Homo sapiens: one gene and its partners. The protein of the gene in region 2 purifies or fractionates together with the protein of the main gene of each other region. This does not show direct contact. Each region holds a gene or a part of one and is shown on either strand. Other genes may lie near its edges.

Region 1 (3,500 bases), on a different chromosome or scaffold from region 2:
TACTGACACTTTATTAACCTTTTTAAACCACCAAGGTTTGAGACAGCTGTGCTTCCTAGCTCTTCCCTGTTAAGAGCAGTCCATGTTCTGTCTTTTTATCTTAGGCAGTGCCTTGTGTTGCCTTAATGCCTTAGTACAGGAAAAGCTCCAGTTGGATGTCAGACTTTTTAAAAAGTACATGAATCAGTGCTGCATAATTTCTATATGGCAAGTTTGGAGGCATCTGCTAAAGAATCAGTACACGTGCTGCATTTGGTCCAGAGAGTTAGCAGAGTGCATGATGGACAGTGTTTTGTCTCAAATACCATGTGGATGCTTGGATTTGATATTTGTAACTGGAAAGAAGTAAATGGATGAGCCATTGATAGACATTCTGGCAACTATTAGGAACATGAATATCAAGTGATAGAATCCCAGGGAAAGAAAGGAAGCAAACTGAATGTGGGGAAAAAAAAGAAAGATTTTAAATGGTAACCAACTGTCACACTCCCTTCTCTTTCTTATTCCCTTGGAAAGGCACAGCAGCTTTTAAAGGTCATCAGTGCTTGTTAAAGAACACAATGTTAAGAAGAGACCTCAGCTCGGCTGTAGTGTATGTGGTCTCTGTCAAAGTAGTGACATGCTCCTTTTTTTTTCTTTTAAAGCTACGTGACTGGGGGTTGTGGATGGAATTCACAAGTTGCACAATGTTAGGCAAGAATTTCTTAGTTAAACATACAGAATATATATGACCTCAAGCTAGAGGCGGGGGAGGGAGGAGGATGCAAAAAAATTGGTCATGGTTCTCTCCACTGGGATTTTTATGAAGGGTGCCTTCAGGTGCCTTTACTATTTCAAACATTTTTTCATGTAATTTATATTTGATTACATGAACCTAAGATAACTGAGTTTATTTCCTAGCCATTTCCAATTCACATATAGTGATTGATTTGATTTATGTCACTTCTGGGTTTTTCTCTTACAAAATTCTTTCAGAAGAATATAACAGATAGTAGAAAGATAGATGAAAGGAGTAAAAGCCCCTAGAAATCTTGGCTGAGCTATTCCTAGAAACTGTAACTTCTGGACTCAGACCTTAAACTTTTCGTGGTATTTCTGCCTCTTGGTTAGCTGTATTCAGTTTACTATTTTTGGACCTTAAGGCTTACGAGTTTTAGCACCTTAAGATTAGAACTTCCATCAAGCCTGAAGTATTTACATATGTGGGTCTAATGTTGTGGAGAGTTGTCTTTAATTCCTGAAAACTAAAGAAGCTAATTTAAATCAACATTGAAAACAAACAACAGTATCTGTGGTAAGACCTGAAGGAAGAGTAAGTTAGAAATAAACAAAAACCTAAGTGTAGACCTTGATCTCTCAAACTACTGTATTGACAATTGTAATTTAATAGTCCCCAAGTCACCAGTGCTGTATGGACTCCACTGTGACTGTATCACCGGAGCACTGGTTCTCAGTGTCACCTTTGAAAGGATTTAAACACAAGGCATCCACGTAATAAACATCATAAACGCAAATGAAATGCAGAACAATTAAGTGAAGCATTTAGGAAAGGACATCCTTTAACTATGGGACTCGCTATCAAGTGCCTTCTGACCAGGAGTGTCCCCAGTGAGAAGAAATGGAAAATCTTAAGAGATGAAGATCACATTTTACCTGCATGACCAGAATTTGAAGGACTTTAAGTTATACACCAAAGTCTTTATTCTGAGACCCCTTTGATTCTCATACTTTTCCATCTATTAGGAGAAATCCCTTCTGCAAATGGTTCCTTTGGATGAAGGTGCCAGTGAGAGACCCCTTCAGGTTCCCAAGGAGATCTGGCTTCTAGTAGATCACCTATTCAAATACGCCTGTCACCAGGTAAGTGAGAGTAGACCTTCCCTACAACTTTGGAAGGTGTGTAACTACTATAGGAAATCACAACACCTCACGTCAGCATAGCGCTTTTAACTTTCCCAAGCTACCTGCACACAGTGGCACTGTCAGATCGACTGGGTGGGTGGAAGTGTCCTAGTCACAGATGTCACAGCTGAAGCATGTAAAGGTAAGTTATTTACTAAGACAAAGGCCTAAGTGTAGTTGTGGCAGAGCCAGGACCAAATTAAGAGCACCTGTCTCCTGGCTACCCTCTCATTTTCCCTGGACAGCTGCACACCTGAGTCTATAATGCCTACTTTGGCTATGAGTCATGTAGGCATTAGAGATTGTAAAATCCAAAGCAGATTTTAAACCCATTTTTTAACTTGGTCCTAATTTTTCTTTTAAATCCTAACTAAAATGCCACCCCACCTCATTCGCCCCCAAAAGAGATATTTCTTGGGACTAAATTGAAAGGTAATGTTCTCTTACCTACTGACGAATAATGTAACTTGAAAGCAAGGTTTAGTATGAGCATGCGATTTCCTCCTTCCCCAGCGTTCAGTAGTACTAGCATTTGAATGTGGTTATTCTGTTTGGACTCTGCCTTCTGCTGCTTGTCAAGAGGCTACAAGTAGGCCAGGCATGGTGGCTCATGCCTGTAATCCCAGCATTTTGGGAGGCAGAGACGGGCGCATTGCTTGAGCTCAGGAGTTTGAGACCAGCCTGGGCAACACGGTGAAACCCCATCTCTATAAAAAAAAATTTTAAAGGAGGCTAGAATTAGAACACCTGGTTTCCTGCTCTAGCCATCTAGTCCCCTGCCTTATTAGGTACAGGCTAAAACCTTTGAAAAGATCATTTTCCTATTTGAAATAACATTTCACATGGATTAGAGAAATGCTAAAGGAAAAATGTGTTATTTTCACACCTCCATTTGTAATTATTAACACACATACCACCCTTCCCTTTTGCTTCCTGCTGCTCTTCTGATCCTTGGGTAATCATCATAACCTCAGGAGTGATTATCTTGCCTGTCCCTTCATTCTGACTTCTTTGGTAGGAGGACCTGTTCCAGACCCCTGGAATGCAGGAAGAGCTCCAGCAGATCATTGATTGTCTGGATACCAGCATTCCTGAGACAATCCGTATCCTTTGCGACCAAAGCTTAAGAAGCTGGATGAGTACTTGATCAAACTCTTCTTCGCACCTATATTTGATTTTTGTGGTTCTATATTTATTTTCTTTGTAATATCTTTTATTATAAGATAACCACTGACTATCCACTTGTTTCTCATTTCCTTTCAGGAACTTTTGACCTCTTTCCATATCCAGCTCTTACTAAAAGGAAGCAAGGGGTAGATAACAATGACTTAAAAGCATGGGACATAGAAGCCACAGCACTGGTACTATTCTCCTTCAGGTGATCAGTCACTCCTGCCACCACACGTACTGTTGACAGGGCAGGGAGAAGGATGGGAAACATGGGCACCTGGTTTATAGGACTGCTCCAGTGTCAACTGTCACTCTGCAGGCTATATTCCCCTGACCCTGAAGCTGGGCCAAAGCTGCCAAGAGTCTTTGACCAATTCTGTAACAACTCACCTGCAGGGCACTTGAATCAATAAAATATCAAACCCCCA
Region 2 (3,500 bases):
CTTGGGTTCTGTATTCCTCATAAAGGTCAACTTTGACTCGAGAGAAAATAAGTTCTATCGGCACTGCCTCCCCCAGCAGACTGTACACAATCACATGCTGCAGAACGATGTTTTGGACAATGATGAACCGGATACACGACAGTGGTCTCCTAAGATGATCATGGAGCTGAAAACTTCATCGAGAGCTGTCATAACACCACAGTGCAATTACTCTATTTTTAAAATAAATGTACTGCAGCCTCAGTGTGCCATGTTGATAAAGTCTGCAGTCATGTACAGCAATGTCCTAGGCCTTCACATTCACTCAGCGCTCACTCACTGACTCACCCAGAGCAGCTTCCAGTCCTGCAAGCTCCGTTCATGGTGAGTGCCCAATAGAGGTGTGCCATTTTAAATCTTTTCTATCATTTTTACCGTACCTTTTCTATCATATTTTTACTGGACTTTTGTGTGGATATGTTTAGATACACAAGTACTTATTAGCACTGTGTTCCAACTGCCTACAGTATTCAGGACAGTAACATGCTGTACAAGTGTGTGGCCTAGATGCAATCAGCCCAGCGTCTGGTCTAGGTGTATAGCAGGCTCTACCATCTAGTTTGTGTCCATACACTCTATGATGTTTGTACGAGGATAAAATAACTTCACAATGCATTTCCCAGAATGTGTCCTCATCGTTAAACAACACACGACTGTACTCCAAAAGGGCAGAAAGGCTTACACGTCTTGGTGCCCACCCCGGGAGCTTGGCCCAGCTGCCTGGTATTCAGAGTCCCACAGTCAATGGTGGATGAATTAATGCTTGCACAGATGGAGACAAGTCATCATTGAGTGACCATTATGCACAAACTGCACATGTTACAAGTCTAAAAGATTATCAGGATATTTGATAAGGTTTAAAAAATTCAATGGTGCCTGTATCTTTAGAAATCTATACAAGTAGAGACTTACAGAGAAAATTCAGTAAATGAACCTAAAATCTTGAGAAATTTCTGTTTGAGTTCACTTTCAATGAGTGTATCAACATAATATTATATAAATATTTTCTGTAACTAAAATCAGCTTTTTGTGGGAACACTCTCTTACTTTGATGAACTTGGAATTTTGGTCCTCGAGAAGCAGAATCTCCTCTTCCATCTTCTTGATCTTGGCCTCTGCTGTCACCTTTTCCAGCTGCAGCTTTTGCCGAGCCCCTTCCTCCTCGTCTAGCTGTTCTTCCAGGTCCTTGTGAAGAACACACAGTCAGTCTCGCCACTTTCTCGAGATTTGACCACACATTCATTGTGCACAGGAATGCATTACAATGAGATACTAATTTTTTTTTTTTTTTTGACACGGAGTCTCGCTCTGTTGCCCAGGCTGAAGTGCAGTGGTGCCACCTCGGCTCGCTGCAACCTCCACCTCCTGGGTTCACGCCATTCTCCTGCCTCAGCCTCCCGAGTAGCTGGGACTACAGGTGCCCGCCACCACGCCCGGCTAATTTTTTGATTTTTTTTTTGGTAGAGATGGGGTTTCACCATGTTAGCCAGGATGGTCTTGATCTCCTGACCTCATGATCCATCCGCCTCAGCCTAGATACTAATTTTTGATTCTCAAAATGCCAAGGATATTTAAAAAAATATGAAATGCAGTTATGTGAAATAGACATTTGTATCCGCTACAGGCTAAAGTACAAACTGGGTCAATCCTTCTAGAAGCCAACATGGCAAAACATAGCTTTAAAAATGAGCCTTTCCTTTCAACCAGCAATTTCAGGAAATTGTCACAGATGCAATTTATATAAAAAGACATACAGTGATAAGTTATTTATAATATTGAGTAACTATGAACATGCTACAAAAAGGTCTTGGTAATTAAATGTTGGCACATTTGTTAAATGGAATAATATATAGTAATTAAAATTCACATTTTGGAATAATAGCAACACAGACAAACATGAATAATGTAGTAGCACTCATCAAATGTGTATTTAATTTAGCTGAATCCAACTATATACATGTTCGGCCAAAGAAGAGAGAAAGAGAACATGAAAACAATAATTTAAATAGTACAGGTCGTGAGAAATGAGCTGTCTCAGTTCAAGTGTACCTTTCACAGCAGAAGCACCTCATCAAACTGGGCGGGAGCATAGAGTTTACATGTATTTTTATTAGAACGTGCAGATCTTTATAATCTACATTACTGTTTATGATAAACATGCTATTACACAGGATCACAGATAGATTACCCCATTTTATATGAGGTGATTATTACACACTACATGCCTGTATCAAAACATCTCATGTACCCCATATATATATATATATATATATATATATATATATATATATATATACACACATACATACATACACACACACACACTTAATATATACGCATAAAAATTAAAATTAAAAACAAAGTGTTACAGCTCTTTTAGAATTTGTCTAGCAGGATTTCTGGTTTCTGGTGGAAAGCTCCCATCCCCTCCAAAAAACGAAATTAAAAAAAAAGTTAAACAAAACAAAACCCAGGCTGGGCGCAGTGGCTCACGCCTGTAGTCCTAGCACTTTGGGAGGCCGAGGTGGGTGGATCACCTGAGGTCAAGAGTTCGAGACCAGCCTGGCCAACGTGGTGAAACCTCGTCTCTACTAAAAATACAAAAATTAGCTGGGCGTGGTAGCAGGCGCCTGTAATCCCAGCTACTGGGGAGGCTGAGGCAAGGGAATCACTTGAACCGAGGAGGTGGAGGTTGCAGTGAGCCGAGATTGCGCCATTGCACTCCAGCCTGGGCAACAAAGCGAGACTCCGTCTCAAAAACAGAACAAAAAAACAAAAACAAAAACAAACCCCAAAAAACCAAAACTAGGGTTGTACAAATCAACACATGGCCAACTTAAGGAAATGTTCAAGAGTAACTTCGGCTAAATAATTTACTCATCGTTAATTTTAGAATGAAACCATGGCAAAAAATGAGTGTTTTCTTGTAAAAATTTCAAACACACATACAAGCACACAGACCAGCATAATAAGCCCCACACAGAAGCATCACCTTGACCTTAACAAGCATCAACTCATGGTCAATTCCATTTCATGTGTGCCTCCACCTGCTCCCTTCTCCCCCTAGGTTATTTTGAAGCAAATCCCAGACATCATATTTCACTTGTAAAACCTTCAGGCTGTACCTCTAAAATATAAAGACCATTTAAAAAGCACATTTGTCTGTTTCAATCACAATCCAAAAATTGTGCCTCATGAGTACAGCCTGTATTTCAAAAAGAAAGTTAAGTACCAGGGAAGGGCTAATTTTTAAAAATTCTCATTCTGACTGTTGGCCACCTCCTATGTCAGTGCTGAGCGTTTCTTATTAGCCAAACCACGTAGTAGATGTCTATCTAATGAATGGAGTGAGCAACAGAATCACTGACAACATGAAGAACAAGTTAGGTCTTCTACAGAATGCTATAGATCCTGGGAGGTTTGCGACTGTGAATCTCTTTGCAAACTGTAAGATGCCACTT
Region 3 (3,500 bases), on a different chromosome or scaffold from region 2:
TCCAACCTAGGCAACAAGAGCAGAAATCCATCTCAAAAAAGAAAAAAAGAAATTGAAATTATTTTTTCCCATTGACTTTTAATAATAAAATTAACATTGTTTTCATGGGAAAACATTTGGAATTGAAATGAAATAAAATCCATTCTAAAGAATGCAATAGGCCTCTTGAAGTTAAATATTAAAATGAAAAAATAACTCATTACAGCATTAAATTGTTAAGATTAAAAATAAATCCATAATACAAATAATTTTCTGCAGTTCACTACGACATGCAAAAAATGCAGTCCCCTGAGGTTTGGCCTATGGGAAAGTGTGTTGTACCTAGGGTCACTCTGCACTTCAAATACTGAAGGTAACATTTACATTATAAAAATTCTGTTAATATTGCAGGCATGTAGTTTATTTTATTTTTTTCTGAAAGGGCTGTCTGTGGCTCTTAATGTATTTTGTTTAACATCCTACATAAAAGTTTTACAGTAAAAAATGGTGTATCTTTTTGTGAAATGAAAATACATCAGCAATATTCAATGGGACTGGATAAAATTCCCCTTGTTTGAACCTTGATTTTAAGGTTAGGAATGAAAGCATTTTGTTGATGGAGATAATAGAGGTAAGAGGTACCTTTTAAAATAAATTGCACATAGCAGAAGAGGTAAGTGACAAACTTTTTAATATTTCACATGAGAATAATCTCAAAGTATATATCTATTTTTTTGACAGTATTCTTCTTTGTATCTCAAATTGTTTTGCTTTTTAAACATTCTTATTTTAGTTATCTGGAGCTTTGGAAAATGCAAAAGCTGAGATTCAAAGAATGCAACATGAAAAAGAGCACTTTGAAGATTCCATGAAAAAAGCTTTCATGAGGGGTGTATGTGCATTAAATCTTGAAGCCATGACTATATTTCAAAACAGAAATGATGCAGGTTAGTATTTCATTAAAGTTTCTCTGCCTAATTTCAAAAAAAGATTTGAGGAGATTTTGGTGATTGGTATGGTCTACAGTACAAATAATCTGCAGTAGGTATGTTTCATCCAGGTGCTGCTATTCTTAATTCTATGGTGTCATATCCAGACTTAAATCTGCCATGAAAATGAGCTCAGTCATGGTTACTTATGGTATCTTAGATCTGATCAAGTACACTGTCACTCCTAAGTATTTAAGCTAAATGTTGAAAATAATATTTTAATGTATAGCATTATTTTAAATCTCTTTTAACTAAGAATTTTAATGCCTTTTTAAGTACAAAACTTCTAATTTTGTCTTTTCTTAAGTAGCCAAATATTTTGGACTATTTTGGTAAGTATTTGTTATCTAGTCATGGTTTCTCATTTTAGAAATTCCTAATCTTCCTGTTTATGAAAGGCCTCAACTAAGCTCATTGCAGCAAACATAAATATAGACCTATCTATAGAAGTAATTTTATTTTTTTTAAAAATCCACATATTGTCTGACATAAGAGTGGTTTGTGTAGTAGTTTTGTCAGCATGGCGTAGAAAAGCCCATAACTAGAATCCTTTGCCACCAATTTACCCAGGGGCCTGTTTTCCTCATTCGGCCTTAGATTTCTTCTCTGAGCGAAGGAGATAATATAAACCTTCCTTACCTGCTTCCTAGGGGCTTCTTGTGGGATGCAGTAAAACATATCTGAAAACACTTTAAAAGACAAAATGCACTTTAACGTGTAAGATGATAGTCATGATGTAATTATTAATAGTTTTAATTCAAGTCAACGTCTCAAGATTTTGTAAATGATTAACATGATTTCAATCCAATGAATAACTTCTCTGTGCTTGTGATGCCCTTATTTTAAAACATCAACAAACATTTATTATTTAAAGCATGCATATTGTGGATAGGAGTAAGTTTAGGCAAATTGCTTTCTATCTGAAGTGGTTGTGGTTTGTGGGCCATATTTAATTTAGAAACTGAGAATCATGGAATCTCAAGGCTGAATAGTTTATTTTGGTAATACCTAGGTGAGTACTTGATTTTTCCAATAAATGGTCTTTTATTTGAGTATCAGGGTTGAAAACAAACTCACCACCTTCAATGATAGAATAGTCTGTTTCAGTTCTAAGTATCAGCAAGTTGTGTGTCACAAATTGAGAAATTTAATTGTTTACTTGGGAGAAATATGAGTTTCACAAGTAAAGTGACAAATTCCTATTAGAACTTCTTACATTAAATTACAAGAAACCTGTTTCTTATAACCTACTTAAAAAGATTTTGAATTGACTTAGGAGTATTTCCCACCTTAATACATTTACCATCTTAAAATGTAAATTGAAATGCAACTGTGTCTCCTAAAGGCCAATATCCATAAGAGGATTTGAAGAAAATGTCTTCTGCTAATTACACAACATGATTTCTTTTGCTCCTGTTACTTTTGAAACAATCGATGAGAAAGATGACAAGAATGGTAAAGCATGCATTAGCAATAATGTTGGTAGAGCTACCAAAGGCAAAAAAGTTCAGTATAATTCAGTGGATCTGCTTTGTGATATTTAGGTTTTATGACATTTTAATGACACCTATTTTTTTTAGTTCTCATAAGAAAAAAAAATTACTTTTGGCCCCCTTCTATTAAAACAACTGTTTTTTATAGGCCAGGCGCGGTCGCTCACACCTGTAATCCCAGCACTTTGGGAGGCCGAGGTGAGTGGATCACGAGGTCAGGAGATCGAGACGATCCTGGCTAACATGGTGAAATCCCGTCTCTACTAAAAATACAAAAAATTAGCCGGGCGTGGTGGCAGGCACCTGTAGTCCCAGCTACTCAGGAGGCTGAGGCAGAAGAATGGCGTGAACCCAGGAGGCAGAGGTTGCAGTGAGCTGAGATCATGCCACTGCACTTCAGCCTGGGCGACAGAGCGAGACTATCTCACAAAAAAAAAAATTGTTTTTTATAATGCAGTTTTTAATAATGTAAAGTTCCTAATGCATCTGTCTTGTTAGAGCAAAATAAATATTTGGTTTTTTATTTGTACCGATTCTTTGCTGTCTGTAATTTGCAGTACCTCTCATGTTGTGCAGTATCTTAAATCTTACAAATTAGAGGTTTTTATGAAGAAGTTAGAACATGACAAAAAGTCCTTAAAATTATATCTGCCAATTTTACTGTGCCAATTAGGCACAGTAAAAAAAAATACTTGACAAGTGAAAAATTTATTCCAGCTAAAATGAGATTAATTATTAAACTTAAGAGTTATCTGATATCAGCCTATATTAGCAAGAGTTGATCACCTGCCTCTCTTCCCTGACCTTCATACTGTTTCTACATCTCCTAATGTCTGCCACCATCTAAAGATAGACACTCAGAATCTCTACCAAAACAAGTTAAAACTCAGTGTGTGTTTTGTTTTCAAATTAAAAGTATTTTATATTGAATTAGTCCCTTTCATCAGAGGAGTTCAAAGGATCTAGGTAGGCACTGTAATCATTGTTAAACTTCTTAAATAAGCTAACTAACTAATACTCTGCAAATTTTCTATACAGA
Region 4 (3,500 bases), on a different chromosome or scaffold from region 2:
GCAGTGGCGTGATCATAGCTTAACTGCAATCTCAAATTCCTGGGCTCTAGCAATCCTCCAGCCTCTGCCTCCAGAGTGGCTGGGAATACAGGCATATGCCACCACGCCCAGCTAATTTTTAAATTTTTTGTAGAGATGGGGTCTCACTATGTCGCCCAGGCTGGTCTCAAACCCCTGGGCTCAAGCGATCCTTCCGCCTTGGCCTCCCAAAGTGTTGGGATTATAGGCATGAGCCACCACTCCTAGCTCTTCAGTTAATGTTAAGGATACTTTTTTATTTATTGTATCTTTTGACTAACTGCATAATAATAATAGCAAATATAAAAACCAGCTGTATTGGGAGTAAACTTTTTATTTTGATTATTTTCCCCCACTTTAGTAAGAAGAATATCATTTAATCCGTCCTCTCTCTGTTTTAAATAAAGTACAATAAGCCATCCACATTGATGTGTTTTTGTATGTGTGGATTCAACCAACTGGATCAGAAATATTTAGGGGGTGAAAACCATGTGTAGTGAACATGTAGACTTTTTTTCTTCTCATTATTTTCTAAAATATATGTAGTACAACAACTACTTGCATAGCATTTTCATTATTTAGGTAGTTTATGTAATCTAGGGATGATTTAAATTATACTGGAGGATGTGTGTAGGCTATATGCAAATACTACACCATTTTATATAATGGACTTGAGCTCCTGCGGATTTTGGTATTAACAGGGAATCCTGGAACCAATCCCCCACAGATACCAAGGGACAATTGTACTACTCCCATAGTTTTTTTTGACTTTTTTCTAATGAAGCACATTTATATTAGGTTTCTCTACTGAAACAACGATTACGAAATGGCCCGATGAATGTTGATGTACTGAAACCACTTCCTCAGCTGGAACCACAGGCTGAAGTCTTCACTAAAGAAGAGAATCCAGAAAGTGATGGAGAGCCAGTAGGTAAGCTTCATTTTGTCAAAAGGTTAATTTAAAAACTAGAGGAGAGCCAGGCTCCTTGGCTTACACCTTTAATCCCAACACTTTGGGAGGCCAGTGTGGGAGGATCGCTTGAGTTCAGGAGTTTGAGACCAGCCTGGGCAACATAGAGAAAACCCTTCTCCACAAGAAAAACAAAAACAAAAATGAAACCCCAAGAAAACCTAGAGGAGGATTTTGAGAGATTCCAGGATGTGAGCTGATAGATATGGGCTGAGGTAGAAGTGTCCGTGGTCCTAATAGTTTCAGAAAGATGCAAGGGTTTGTTTTGTTTTTTTGGTTCTTTGTTGTTATTTAGGAGAAAATAAGTGTTTTTTGTTTGCTTGTTAGTTTGAGATGGTGTCTCACTCTATTGCCTAGGCTGGAGTGCAGTAGCATGATCTCGGCTCACTGCAACCTCCATCTCCTGGGTTCAAGCGATTCTCCTGCCTCAGCCTCCCGAGTAGCTGGGATTACAGGCACACACCACCATGCCCGGCTAATTTTTGTATTTTCAGTAGAGACGGGCTTTCACTATGTTGGCCAGGCTGGTCTCGAACTCCTAATCTCAAGTAATCTACCTGCCTCAGCCTCCCAAAGTATTGGGATTACAGGTGTGAGTCACTGTGCCCAACCAAAAAAGTTGTTTTAATATGCAAAAATTTCATAGTCTGTAACACCACATTTTCATTGTAATTGAAATTCATTTATTATGCTACACTGTTTTATTAATAGCAGTAGCTAGATTTCATATGAACAGGTCAGTTCTGCTTACATGCTAATAAGTGGGCTATTTGTAATTGTTTGGATATTTTAGTTTTTAAATATTGCTTAAATAGTTCTATATTCATAGATATTTGTATTTGTCCTATTAATTGCTTTTTAACTGGAAAAAGAAGAAATAGCTATATTTTGTCTTAAAATTCAGTTACAGCCTTCTTTGCTTTGAGGCTTGAGGTATATACGCAATAAAATTCCCGTCTTTTATTTCCTAGCTTTTTCTTTCAAAGGGACTTATGATAAACTTGGAGTAAGTAGTTGAGCAGTTAACTATCTGAGCAACCAGACTATGGTGGGGTGGTGGGGCGGCGGGGCCAGTCCCGAAATTCCCAGACATGTGGAAACTTCAGACTCATAAATGTAAAGAGATGGAGAAAGTTGCACTTACCAGAACTCCTCTCAGAAAGAGATTAGAATGTGGTTGGAAAGAATACCGTACTTTATTAATCCTTTTGGGAGGTGAGCTAAGACACATAATTTTGAATAACAAAAGATGATTATCAAACTGTCATTTTAAGGAGGGTGGATTCAGTTAATGTTAGTTAACTACTGTGCCATTCTGAATGGGGTTGAACCTCAAAGAGGTGAATTACTACTAAGCTTCTTCAGATAAAGATTAAACAACTAATACTAAGTAGAGGTTTGGAAGGGTGCCAGTTTATTAGCTGACTAGGGTTGTCCCTTCTTCATCTAAGAGTATAGCAGAATATTGGTGTAAGAATACACTCCTGGTGGGGCGTGGTGGCTCTCACCTGTAATCCCAACACTTTGGGAGGCTGAAGCAGGCGGATTGCCTGAGGTCAGGAGTTCGAGACTAGTCTGGCCAACATGGTGAAACCCCACCTCTACTAAAAATACAAACAAGTTAGCGAGACGTGGTGGTGTGCGCCTGTAATCCCAGCTACTTGGGAGGTTGAGGCAGGGGAATTGCTTGAACCAGGGAGGTGGAGGTTGCAGTGAGCCGAGATCATGCCACTGCACTCCAGTCTGGGCGGCAAAGCGAGGCTCCGTCTCAAAAAAAAAAAGAGGGAATACACACCTGTGTAGTAACAGACTGTTCCTGGAAGTGTCCTTATATTTGTAACCGCCCAAAGGGTTCACCTTGCCCACTGCCTAGACAGAGCTGATTTATCAAGATAGGGGAATTGCAGTAGAGAAAGAGTAATTCACGCAGAGCCGAGTGTGCACGTGACCAGAGTTTTATTTTACTCAAATCAGTCTCGCCAAGCATTCACGGATCCGAGTTTTTAAGAACAATTTAGTGGGTGGGAGGAAGCCAGTGAGCCAGGAGTGCTGATTGGTCAGGTCAGAGATGATATCATAGGGAATCAAAGCTGTCTTCTTGTGCTGAGTCACTTCCTGGGTGGGAGCCACAAGATCAGATGAGCCAATTTATCGATCTGGGTGTTGCCAGCTGATCCATCAAGTGCAGGGTCTGCAAAATATCTCAAGCAGTGATATTAGGAGCAGTTTAGTGGTGGTCAGAATCTTGTAGCCTTCAGCTGCATGACTCCTAAATGATAATTTCTAATCTTTTGGCTAATTTGTTAGTCCTACAAAGGCAATCTAGTCTCCAGGCAAGAAGGGGGTTTGTTTGGGAAATGGCTTTTATTGTCTTTGTTTTAGACTATAAACTATAAACTAAGTTCTCCCAAAGTTAGTTCAGCCTACACCCAGGAACGAACAATGACAGCTTAAAGGTTAGAACCAAGATGGAGTCGGTTAGATTAGATCTCTTTGACTGTCTCAGTCATAA
Region 5 (3,500 bases), on a different chromosome or scaffold from region 2:
AAAATTTTAAATTGCTTATATCCTTCTGCCCAGTAATTCAATGTCCAAATGTCTGTCCTGGAGCATTCAAACATGTGCTCAAAAACTTTTACGTATATATATAAAATGTTTATCAGTGAAAGAGAAAAATTGGTATGTTTGGATTTAAGACCACCTAAGGCATTATATACCTCCATCATTTGAGTGTTTGAGTGTTTTAGAACAGATTACACTTAATTTTATCACGAAACTTTATTTTTGCAAATTCTGTATTTCATGGTTAACATCATAGAGTGGAAACATTCTCTGTACAGTCAGTTCAAAATCTTGAGTTGCTTTTGATTTAAGTGATCCAAAGTTTAAAAAAAATTAATAAAATCTTGAGTTGCTATTTATGCTTTATATAAGTAGTAGCATCACTAACTCCGTATTTTTTTTTCTGAGGTTTCATTGTTTAATTTTCTAAAAACATTTTAAACTTGTAAAAATTCTCATTTTGGGATTTTCATAAAAAGTACAGCTTATTGACTAATAAATGAGGAAGCTCATAACAAATTCATTATATGTCATTTGACATAACTAAAATGAAGCAGACTGGCTAAAACCTTTCTATAGATTCTTACACAATTTGGAAGTAAATATGGGTGAAGTTCTTTAGATTCAACTATGTTCTTAAAAATTTAATCCTTGATTCTATTGAATTTGCTCTTTGGTTTAGAATGCTTTGAGCTGTTGATGGTTTTTCTGACTTTGTACATTGAGTTGATAAAATACATACTCTTTTCAAAAACAGAAAGTTAAATAAGTATATCTTAGTTCCTTAAAAATGCTCATTGGTGGGTAGCTATTTACCTGAAGTGTGACTGAAAATAGAAAGATTCTGTAACATCTTTGAAAATTGCCAGTAAGTATTTATGTGTATATGTTTTAGTGTCAGTATAGGAGATAAGTTAAAGAAAGTAAGTTAAATGTTAAAAAGCAACCTCAAAGTGGCATAATGTAGGCCTCAGTGAACTAAAGTATTGTTTTTTCATGTTTGTATTTTGTGTCTTTTTATCAAGTAAAAGAAACAGCCCGGAAATCCAAGTAGATTTCTCAGTTTGTTACTCTGTTAGTGAGTGTTTTATGCTTTTTGGTTTATGAGTCATGAAGATTGGAGAATTTATATTTCAGAACTATAAACTTATGCTGGCTTCTAGAACTGTATCTCCTCTAGGGTATCTCAACAGGGATAATTGAATACCAGGAGCTCTTAAAGCGTACAGATAATTTCATTTCCTCCTTGATGTCATTGGTATCTCAGAAGCCCTGAAACCACTTAAGTTAGAACTATTTGTTTATTTATAAGTACTTGTCTGTAATGTACGGAGAAAAACTTACAATGAGATTATTATGTCTCCCAAATTGCTACTTAGAATAAATTACCAGTTCAAAAGAAGCAATTAGATAAAATATTCAGACGTTTAAAAATATTACAGCTGAAACATTTCTTTCACATAATTATTTTTCATGATTGCCTTAAGTGAGGCAACTTCTAAAATAATATTATACTAAAGTGTTATTTCTGCCATTTCTTGCAAGAGGATACAATGTCACCTTCAGCAAGGTAATTGCGTCCTTTTTGTTTTGAAAAAAGTGATTTTATATGAAATATGTATATTCATGTACTTATCACCCAGTTTAAGAAATGAAACAGCCAAAACAGTTTAAGCCCTCCCCCTACTTTATCTTCCTCTCTGCCCGCTAGAGATAATAATCACAATCCTGAATTCAGTGTTTATTAGCATCCATACATGTCTTTATACTTCTCCACATATGTATGCAGCCACAAACAAATAACATTTTTCACTTTTAAGCAAATGAAAACATACTGTATATATCCTGCTACAACTTTACTCTATCAGCATTATGTTTCTGATACACAGTTGATTCCTGTATGACTCACCACAGTTTACTTATTCCGTCTTCTCTTAATGAACATTTAGGTTGTTTTCATTTTCTTTGCTTTTGAAAAAATATAGCTGCTGGAAGCAATCTTGTATGTGTTTCCTAAGGCACAAGTGTAAGGACTTTTCTATATAACTAGAAGTAAAATTGCCAGTCATAAGTTGTGTACATCCTTAGCACTCCAAAATGATTTAGCAGTCTTTGCTCCTAGTAGTAATATGTAAGAGTAAACTACCTGTAGCTCCAGTTCCTTGTCAGCTCTTAGTACTTTTGGACTCTAAAATTTTTCCAGACTGATGGTTGTGAAATGGTATCTCATTATACTTTTATTTTTCCCTTTATTTGGCTAGCTTTACCAATATATAATTTATATATAATAAAGCTTACCAATTTTAAGTGTAGAATTCTGTGATGTTTGACAAGTGTGTAATCACATAGCCACCACCATAATCATGATACACAACATTTCTGTCCCCCTAGAGAATCCTCATGCCCCATTGCAGTCAGTTTCTTCCCCCAACCTCCCGGCCCCTGACTAGACTGATATGCTTTCTATCACTAGAATTTTGCCTTTTCTAGAAGTGTATGTAATTGGAGTCTTACATTACAGTCTTTCCTGTCTGTCTTCTTTTATTTAGCATAATGCTATTGAGGTTCATCTGTGTTTCTTCTTTATATTATTTCTTCTTATTGTTGAGTAGTATTCTGTTGTATGAACATGTTTGTTTATTCATTCTCCACTTGAACATTTGGATTGTTTTTGGGTTTTGGCTTATGTGAATAAAGGTGCTATGAACATTTGCCTATAACTCTTTGTGTGAATATATGTTTTCATTTTTCTTAAGTGCCAAAGAGTGAAATTATTAGGTCATAGGATAAGTGTATGTTTAATTTGTCTAGAAGCTGCCAAACTATTTTTATTTTTTTTTATTTTTTAAAGTAGAGATGGGGTTTCTCCATGTTACCCAGGCTGGTCTCCAACTCCTGGACTCTAGCAGTTCTCCTGCCTCAGCCTCCCAAAGTGCTGGGATTAAAAGCATGAACCACTGCACCTGGCCAATGCCCAACTGTTTTCCAAAGTGACTGAACAATTTTGGATCCTCCCCAGCAAATTAGGAGAGTTCCAATCCCTTGACAACCCTTGCCATATTGTCAGTCTTACCCATTTTAGCCATTCTAGCACATGTACAGCAGTACTTCACTGTGGTTTTAATTTGCATTTTCTCATTGTGTTTGTTTACCAGCCATATATCTTTGGTGAACTGTCTGTACAAATCTTTTCCCTACTTTTTAACTGGGTTTTGTTGTTGTTGGTTTGTTTTGATTTGGTTTTTTAAACTGAGTTATAAGAGTTCTATATTCTGGATACAAGTCCATTGTTGAATATATGTTTTGCAAATATTTACTCCCAGTCTGTGCCTTGCCTTTTCCTTTTCTCAGCAGTGTGTGTTGAAGAACTCAAGTTTCTAATTTCAGTGAAGTCTAATTTACCAATTTTTTTATTTTATAGTTTGTGTTTTTTGTGTCCTATTAAAAAAACTTTAGCCTAACCCAGTGTCACTAAGATCTACCCA
Region 6 (3,500 bases), 9.7 Mb from region 2:
CTGGCCCCTGGTGGGACCAGGTAGTTCCTCCTTGCCCAAGGTGGTTTGGAATGAAACCTCCCTGGACCTTGGTTCAAGGTGCTGCCCTGATCTGCCTTTTGGCCTGGAACTGAGCTCTACCAAACCCCAGGGCTCCACCCGCCCAGCCTGCCTGCCCTGGGACTGGAAAATCTGGGCTGGCCCACGCTGAGCTGCCCAGGGAAGGTGCCAGAGAGCCCAGCGTGGGCCTGGCGGGCGCTGACGTGCCCAGTGACTCAGGTCTCAACTTCCTGCCCTGCCCCCACTCCCGCCTGTGCTGGGACCCTCAGGCCTCTGACTCTGGTGTGCCCTTCCCTGCTGAAGAGCTTGCCGTGGCTTTCAGGGCTGCTGGAATGAGTCTCAACCACCCCCACAGTCACACACCTCTCACGCCCTGGCTCTGGGCTTTCACCACCGCCTGGGGCCCTGCTTGGACTCTGCAGCTGTGTCCCAAGGCTGCGCCCTAGATTTGTCTACTCCTTCCCCTGCCCCCTCCCTGCTTTCTCCCGGCCTCTGTAGTCTTCCTGCTCCTCCACCTACGTGGCTGCCTTGGGCCCCATGCAGCTCCTCCCCCGGGATGCCCCATGCTCTGTTCTGTGACTGCCTTACTCTTGATCACCTCTGATGGCTGCTCCAGTGCAGGCAGAACCCCCAAAGTCCTCTGTTCTCTACATGTCCCCCTTTGCCACCTCCTGTTAATCAGGGTGGTCATTTCCACCTTGTTTGGTTTAAAGGCTCCAGGTGCATATGGTGCATGTGGCCTGGCCTATAACAGGTGCACAGTGTACCTGTGCTGTCTACAGTAGGTGCCTATTGTTTTTTGTAAAAGTAGGATTCCGGTCAGTGTTTGGCACGTGCAGTAGGTGCTTAGTGAGTGGTTATCAGATGAGTGAATGGAGGGGCGTGCAGGCCTCCCAGGAACTCGGGTAGCCCTGACATCTGCCCTCCCTGCAGCCATGAGGACGGCACCGTGAGGTTCTGGGATGCCTCGGGTGTGGCGCTGCGGCCGCTCTATAAGCTGAGCACAGCTGGCCTCTTCCAGACAGACTGTGAGCACGCTGACAGCCTGGCCCAGGCTGCCGAGGACGACTGGCCACCCTTCCGCAAGGTGGGCCCCTCCCCTGGCCCTGATGAGCTGGTCCTGACCCCGCCTGGACTCATTACTCCTTCCCATCCCTCTAGGTGGGCTGCTTCGATCCCTACAGTGACGATCCCCGGCTTGGCGTGCAGAAGGTTGCTCTCTGCAAGTATACAGCCCAGATGGTGGTGGCTGGCACTGCAGGCCAGGTAGGGCTGGGTGTCCCCTGGGTTGGAGATGTCAGGGAGGGCTTTCTGGAAGAGATGAGCTGGAGGGTCTGGTGGAAAGGGAGATGGACTGGCACAGGCAAAAGCCAAGGTGGGAATAGGGCTCTGGGTGGGGCTGGCTGGGGTGAGGACAGATGGGAAGTGGGCCTGTCGCTGGGGGAACCACAGTGTTGAGAGGAGGGAACTCATGTCAGTGCTGTGCTCCGGCACTCACATGACATACAGGAGGTGCTCAATGTGTCCTTATTGCTAAATGGGAGATAGAGGCTCAGGGTAAGGGTGGACACTTTGCCCTCAGAGGGCAGGGACTAGTGTGTCTTGGTCACCACTGTGTTCCTTGTGCTCAGCCAGGGCCTTGGTATACAGTAGGCATTCAGTGAGTGCTTGTTTAGCTGATGAACTGAAGACAGTCCTAGAACCACCTTGGTGGTGGCTGGGGCTGCTTCAGAGGCTCCAGGCTGAGTGGGGCCCAGGGCGGCCCCTCCCCTGCGCTGATGCTCCCCCTGCCTGGCTGTGGGCTCAGGTGCTGGTACTGGAGCTTAGTGATGTGCCGGTGGAGCAGGCGGTCAGCGTGGCCATCATAGACCTCCTCCAGGACCGCGAGGGCTTCACATGGAAGGGCCACGAGCGGCTGAGCCCACGCACGGGGCCGCTGCCCTGGCCTGCTGGCTTCCAGCCCCGTGTCCTGGTGCAGTGCCTGCCGCCAGCTGCTGTAACCGCTGTCACACTCCACACCGAGTGGAGCCTCGTGGCTTTTGGCACCAGTCATGGCTTTGGCCTCTTCGACTACCAGCGCAAGAGCCCTGTGCTGGCCAGGTGTGTGGGGTGGGGCCGGCTGGGCAGTTGGAGCCCCCAGCGAGATGGGGTCTGGGCTTCCGTTTCCACCTCTAGTGTTTGGTGTGGCAAAGGCCACTAACCTCCATTGCCCTATAAGAAATAACCTGGCAGCTCCAAGAAGGACATTCTCAGTACCACCTGCAGCTGGGTCCATAGGACTGCGCCAGAGGGGCTGTGACTCCCTGACCTGGGTGCCTCCACAGGCCAGCAGGAGTGTGGTGGCTGCCCCAGGAGGCTGCTCTATAGCACGACTGGACCCTGTCTTCCCCCAGGTGCACTCTTCACCCCAATGACTCCCTGGCCATGGAGGGTCCGCTCTCCCGGGTGAAGTCTCTCAAGAAGTCACTGCGCCAGTCTTTCCGGCGCATTCGCAAGAGTCGTGTCTCTGGCAAGAAGCGGGCTGCTAATGCCAGCAGCAAGGTGAGCTGGGGTGGGCTGCACAGGAGCTGTGCCTGTGTCCTGTGCCTTGGCCTGGCTCTGGCCTGGGACCCCTGGGGCCTGCTTAGCTCAGTGCTCCTCCCTCGGCAGCCCCTGGGCCCTCCAGAGGGATGGGTGAACTAAGCTGGGTGGTAGAGGAATGGTAACAGAACGTAGGGCGCAAAGCAGGATGCAAGCCACTGGGGTGCTAGGGAGACAGTGTTCAGGAGCCCCCGCCCGGCAGTTGCAGGAAGCCAATGCACAGCTGGCTGAGCAGGCCTGCCCCCACGACGTGGAGATGACGCCCGTGCAGCGCCGCATTGAGCCCCGCTCTGCCGATGACTCCTTGTCGGGTGTCGTGCGTTGCCTATACTTTGCCGACACATTCCTTCGAGATGGTAAGGCAGGGGCAGGGGCAGGGACAGGGCAAGGGTTGGGGGGGCTGGCCTCAATTGGCCACCTGGGAGATGGGTGGTGGCAAGGGAGGTGGTGGGACTGCACCTTCCAGGAGGTGGCTGGGCACGGTGGCTCAAGCCTGTGAGTGATCCCAGCACTTTGGGAGGCCGAGGTGGGCGGATCACCTGAGGTCAGGAGTTTGAGACCCGCCAGGCCAACATGGTGAAACCTCGTCTCTACTAAAAATACAAAAATTAGCCAGGTGTGGTGGCGGGCGCCTGTAATCCCAGCTACTTGGGAGGCTGAGGCAGGAGAATTGCTTGAACGTGGGAGGCGGAGGTTGCAGTGAGCCGAGATCGTACCACTGCACTCCAGCCTGTGCAACAGAGTGAGACCTTCTCAGAAAAAAAGCTTACCATCCAGCTCTCCCAGGGGGACTGCTGGGTCACCCCCAGTCTCTCTGGGGGAGCTGGATGGTAAAGGATTTTTGAGTGAGCTGGGTGGGCCTCTCAGATCTGAGCCAGGAG
Region 7 (3,500 bases), about 55 Mb from region 2:
TGTGTTAGGTACCATAAGAAATAATTCGTAGGTTTTCTGTTGCTTTTAACTCCCACAGCAGCTTTGTGAAATGATGCTTTATCTCCATTTTACAGATGAGGAAATTGAGGTTTGGAGAGAATAAATGATTTGCTCAGGGCCTCCTTACCAAATTTTTCTGACTCTGAAGTTCATATTCCTAACTGCTTCAGTCTAAGAAAGTTGTTATTTGTTGTTTTTTTTTTTGAGATGGAGTCTCGCCCTGTCGCCATGCTGGAGTTCAGTAGCGCTATCTCAGCTCACACCAACCTCCGCCTCCTGTGTTCAGGCAATTCTCCTGCCTCAGCCTCCCAAGTAGCTGGGATTACAGGCGCACACCACCACGCGCAGTTAATTTTTTTGTATTTTTAGTAGAGACGGGGTTTCACCATGTTGGCCAGGCTGGTTTCGAACTCCTGACCTCAAGTGATCCACGCATCTTGGCCTCCCAAAGTGCTAGAATTACAGGCGTGAGCCTCTGCGCCCAGCCTGTTATTTGTTTTTAAAAGTTTTGTTTGTTTTTAAAGAATGCCACATTGGAGGAGTGCTGATAATTCAGTTAGTCTCAGTCCATACCACAGAGATAACTGGCTTGTGGCAGCCAAGTGTGCATAGTGATGTTGCTTTTTAGAAGGAAAAAAAACAAAAACAAAACCTCAATCCAGGAAGAAATGCCTAAAAGAGCCACTTGATTTACTTCCTGTCTTTATACATGTCCTCTGAAGTATCAGTTGAAGAACCTGTCTACCTCTAGGAATGTATTTTACTTTGACACAAAATTAGATTCTATAACCCTGATTCACTTGTGTCAGTTGTCCCAGATTTCAGATGACAGTGCCAAACTTTTCCACTAGTGTGTTCTCAGCTCTGGAACTACTAAACAAGTTTGTTCATTAAGTAATGCCAGGAATTGGTTAGCTTCCTGGAAACAGAATTTGTCAACCTGATAAACCAGCTCTTATAATAGCGTCATCTTATACAGAATTAGAAATGATTTCTTCAGTCATACTTGTGGATCTGACTTGAAAAGTGGTGTGTGTATGTGTGTGCCTGTATGTGTATTCACATCCATCTTTGTTCAATATCTGAGTTGAAAGAACTGAAAATTCTCAATACTTAGGGTGGTTAATGTTGTTACTGATAACTCCTTGCATTCCGCTTTTAGGAGTATTGTTGGATGCTCCTCAGAAAACACTTAAACCTAGTCATAATCCTCCTTGTATTGATCCCAATTTATTATTACAGTTGGCCCAATTTTATATATATTTAATAATATCTAAGCCATTTAATATATAAACCTATACATATTATATATAAGCCAATCTTCCTAGCTTAGATGTTATGCTCTAGTTTTTAAAGTTTGGTTGTGAGGATAAAAATCAAAACAAAAAACCAAGTTCCCTTTTTGTTTTTGGGACAGGGTCTCACTGTCGCCCAGGCTGAAGTACAGTGGCATGATCATGGCTCACTGCAGCCTCAACCTCCTGGGCTCAAGTGATCCTTCCACCTAAGCCTCTCAAGTAGCTGAGCCTACAGCGTGCACCACCATGCCCAGCTAATTTTTTGTATTTTTTGTAGAATGTAGTTTTGCCATGTTGCCCAGTCTGGTCTCGAACTCCTGGGCTCAAGCAATCCACCTGCCTCAGCCTCCCAAAGTGCTGGGATTACAGGCATGAGCCACCCTGTCCAGCCAGGTTCCCTTCTTTAAAGAAGCTATAGGGAAATTGTAGAAGGTATAAAATAATTGATGGGATATATATGTGTTAATTTGACAGATGTCTTTTTGTAGATACCCACTTTCTCCTCATTCATTATCCCCTTTACTGCATGCTTTCTATATTACAGCTATGTCACTCTCATACATACTTTTGTATATGTTTTGAAGTGGAATCATATGGGAAGTTATGCTCCTGGTGGTTTTCCTGCAAGTTTTAAATCTAATTTTACTTTCCTGAACAAGCAAAAACCTCTTTATAGGCAACTTTGTCCTTTTCTGTACCTCGTCAGAGGGCATATAGGGCACCAGAGCAGATTTCGTCTAGGAAGAGGGGAGAGGCAAATAAGGTGAGGGGCCAGGCACGGTGGCTTATGTCTGTAATCCCAGCATTTTGGGAGGCTAAGGAGGGAGGATCGCTTGAGCTCAGGTGTTTGAAATCAGCCTGGGCAACATGGTGAAACCCTCGCTCAATAAAAAATACAAAAATTAGCAGGGCATGGTGGTGTGCACCTGTAGTCCCAGCTACTCTGGAGGCTGAGGTGGAGGATTGTTTGAGCCTGGGGGTGGAGGAGGCTGCAGTGAGCTGTGATTGCACCACTGCACTCTAGCCTGGGCAACAGAGTGAAACCCTGTTTCAGTCAGTCAGTCAATCAGTTAATCAGTAGTGGGAGAAGAGACTTGAGCAGTTTTACTTCCTACATTTCATGCTGTTCGTTTCTTTCCACAGGGTATTAGAATATTTCCAAGGGACAGTGATAAAGGGTAGAAGATAGGCACTCTCTTTGGGTGGAATCTTTTGTATTTGCTTCTTTTAAGGTGTGCCCCAAGTCCCCAAATGGCTCAGTTGTCACCAAAGCAAGTGTAACAACTCATCCCTCATGTTCCCTTCACGATCAACAGATTTATTCATTTTCAATCTCCAAATGCTATTTGAATGGGCAAAGATCTCTTAAAGGACCTGGGAAAAATTTGTACAACATGGAATTGGACTGGTTTGTGTTCTGGGTTTTGGCCAGTTGTTTTCAATGTATGAGAACTCTAGTACTCCATGCTATTTCAAGAAAAGGGGATTAAAAGTAATGCCAGTAAGGTGGAGACAATGCATTGCTTGGTCAGCTTAGGGAGGAAAAACAATAGAACTACCCTTTGACTTCCCCATGGGAAGTAGTAGGCCTATAAACTTGTAAAGAGTTGTGGGGGTTGCTGGTGGTGGCGGCATTCAAATGCTAGGCTTGTAAAACAACTTCTGTTCAAAGCAGTTACCTGAGGCCCTTATTTGGTACCTTTTAAAGTGTGCTCTCCTCCTTATGATGCTTTAAGAATAAGTCTGGGACTGACACTGTGCCATAATCCTCTCTCTATGGATTCATCTTTTCATTCAGTACCATATTACATTGTACTGTGTTCTTCACTTCAATTTTTCATCTATTTTTCCTGGTTAAGTTTCTCTGGCACTGGACCAACTGCCCTGTTTGAGCGTGTCCCTTCCCTGCAATGAATTGGTAAATATTGCTGCAGGAAATCTGATTGGAGGGCTATTAAGAAACCATTAAAGGCCAGGCATGGTGGCCCACACCTGTATGTAATCTTAGCACTTTGGGAGGCCGAGGCAGGAGGATCACTGGAGTCCAGGAGTTGGAGACCAGCCTGGGCAACATGGGGAGACCCCGTCTCTACAAAAAATAAAAAAATCATCCAGGCATGGTGGTGCATGCCTGTGTTCCCAGCTACTCAGGAGGCTGATGTGGGAAGGTCACTTGAGCCC

The links.
Region 1: the proteins of MYH10 (region 2) and OCRL purify together in Homo sapiens (co-immunoprecipitation; one large-scale study listed by IntAct). This does not show direct contact.
Region 3: the proteins of MYH10 (region 2) and POC5 purify together in Homo sapiens (co-immunoprecipitation; one large-scale study listed by IntAct). This does not show direct contact.
Region 4: the proteins of MYH10 (region 2) and GOLGA4 fractionate together in Homo sapiens (co-fractionation; one large-scale study listed by BioGRID). This does not show direct contact.
Region 5: the proteins of MYH10 (region 2) and DCTN4 fractionate together in Homo sapiens (co-fractionation; one large-scale study listed by BioGRID). This does not show direct contact.
Region 6: the proteins of MYH10 (region 2) and LLGL1 purify together in Homo sapiens (co-immunoprecipitation; one study listed by IntAct). This does not show direct contact.
Region 7: the proteins of MYH10 (region 2) and MAP3K3 purify together in Homo sapiens (tandem affinity purification; one large-scale study listed by IntAct). This does not show direct contact.

The regions. Positions count from the first base shown.
Region 1 is NC_000023.11:129,585,259-129,588,758, forward strand, and holds part of OCRL (inositol polyphosphate 5-phosphatase OCRL), read left to right. Parts: intron 1-1,743; coding exon 1,744-1,860; intron 1,861-2,920; coding exon 2,921-3,005; intron 3,006-3,500. UniProt on the Homo sapiens protein: Catalyzes the hydrolysis of the 5-position phosphate of phosphatidylinositol 4,5-bisphosphate (PtdIns(4,5)P2) and phosphatidylinositol-3,4,5-bisphosphate (PtdIns(3,4,5)P3), with the greatest catalytic activity towards PtdIns(4,5)P2.
Region 2 is NC_000017.11:8,508,726-8,512,225, forward strand, and holds part of MYH10 (myosin-10), read right to left. Parts: intron 2,461-3,500; exon of another isoform or gene 2,401-2,460; intron 1,225-2,400; coding exon 1,087-1,224; intron 364-1,086; exon of another isoform or gene 26-363; intron 1-25. UniProt on the Homo sapiens protein: Cellular myosin that appears to play a role in cytokinesis, cell shape, and specialized functions such as secretion and capping. Involved with LARP6 in the stabilization of type I collagen mRNAs for CO1A1 and CO1A2.
Region 3 is NC_000005.10:75,686,438-75,689,937, reverse strand, and holds part of POC5 (centrosomal protein POC5), read left to right. Parts: intron 1-772; coding exon 773-926; intron 927-2,609; coding exon of another isoform or gene 2,610-2,728; exon of another isoform or gene 2,729-2,990; intron 2,991-3,500. UniProt on the Homo sapiens protein: Essential for the assembly of the distal half of centrioles, required for centriole elongation. Acts as a negative regulator of centriole elongation.
Region 4 is NC_000003.12:37,295,271-37,298,770, forward strand, and holds part of GOLGA4 (golgin subfamily A member 4), read left to right. Parts: intron 1-816; coding exon 817-949; intron 950-3,500. UniProt on the Homo sapiens protein: Involved in vesicular trafficking at the Golgi apparatus level. May play a role in delivery of transport vesicles containing GPI-linked proteins from the trans-Golgi network through its interaction with MACF1. Involved in endosome-to-Golgi trafficking.
Region 5 is NC_000005.10:150,749,018-150,752,517, reverse strand, and holds part of DCTN4 (dynactin subunit 4), read left to right. Parts: intron 1-3,500. UniProt on the Homo sapiens protein: Part of the dynactin complex that activates the molecular motor dynein for ultra-processive transport along microtubules.
Region 6 is NC_000017.11:18,235,635-18,239,134, forward strand, and holds part of LLGL1 (lethal(2) giant larvae protein homolog 1), read left to right. Parts: intron 1-972; coding exon 973-1,126; intron 1,127-1,200; coding exon 1,201-1,305; intron 1,306-1,846; coding exon 1,847-2,139; intron 2,140-2,432; coding exon 2,433-2,580; intron 2,581-2,821; coding exon 2,822-2,975; intron 2,976-3,500. UniProt on the Homo sapiens protein: Cortical cytoskeleton protein found in a complex involved in maintaining cell polarity and epithelial integrity. Involved in the regulation of mitotic spindle orientation, proliferation, differentiation and tissue organization of neuroepithelial cells.
Region 7 is NC_000017.11:63,628,917-63,632,416, forward strand, and holds part of MAP3K3 (mitogen-activated protein kinase kinase kinase 3), read left to right. Parts: intron 1-3,500. UniProt on the Homo sapiens protein: Component of a protein kinase signal transduction cascade. Mediates activation of the NF-kappa-B, AP1 and DDIT3 transcriptional regulators.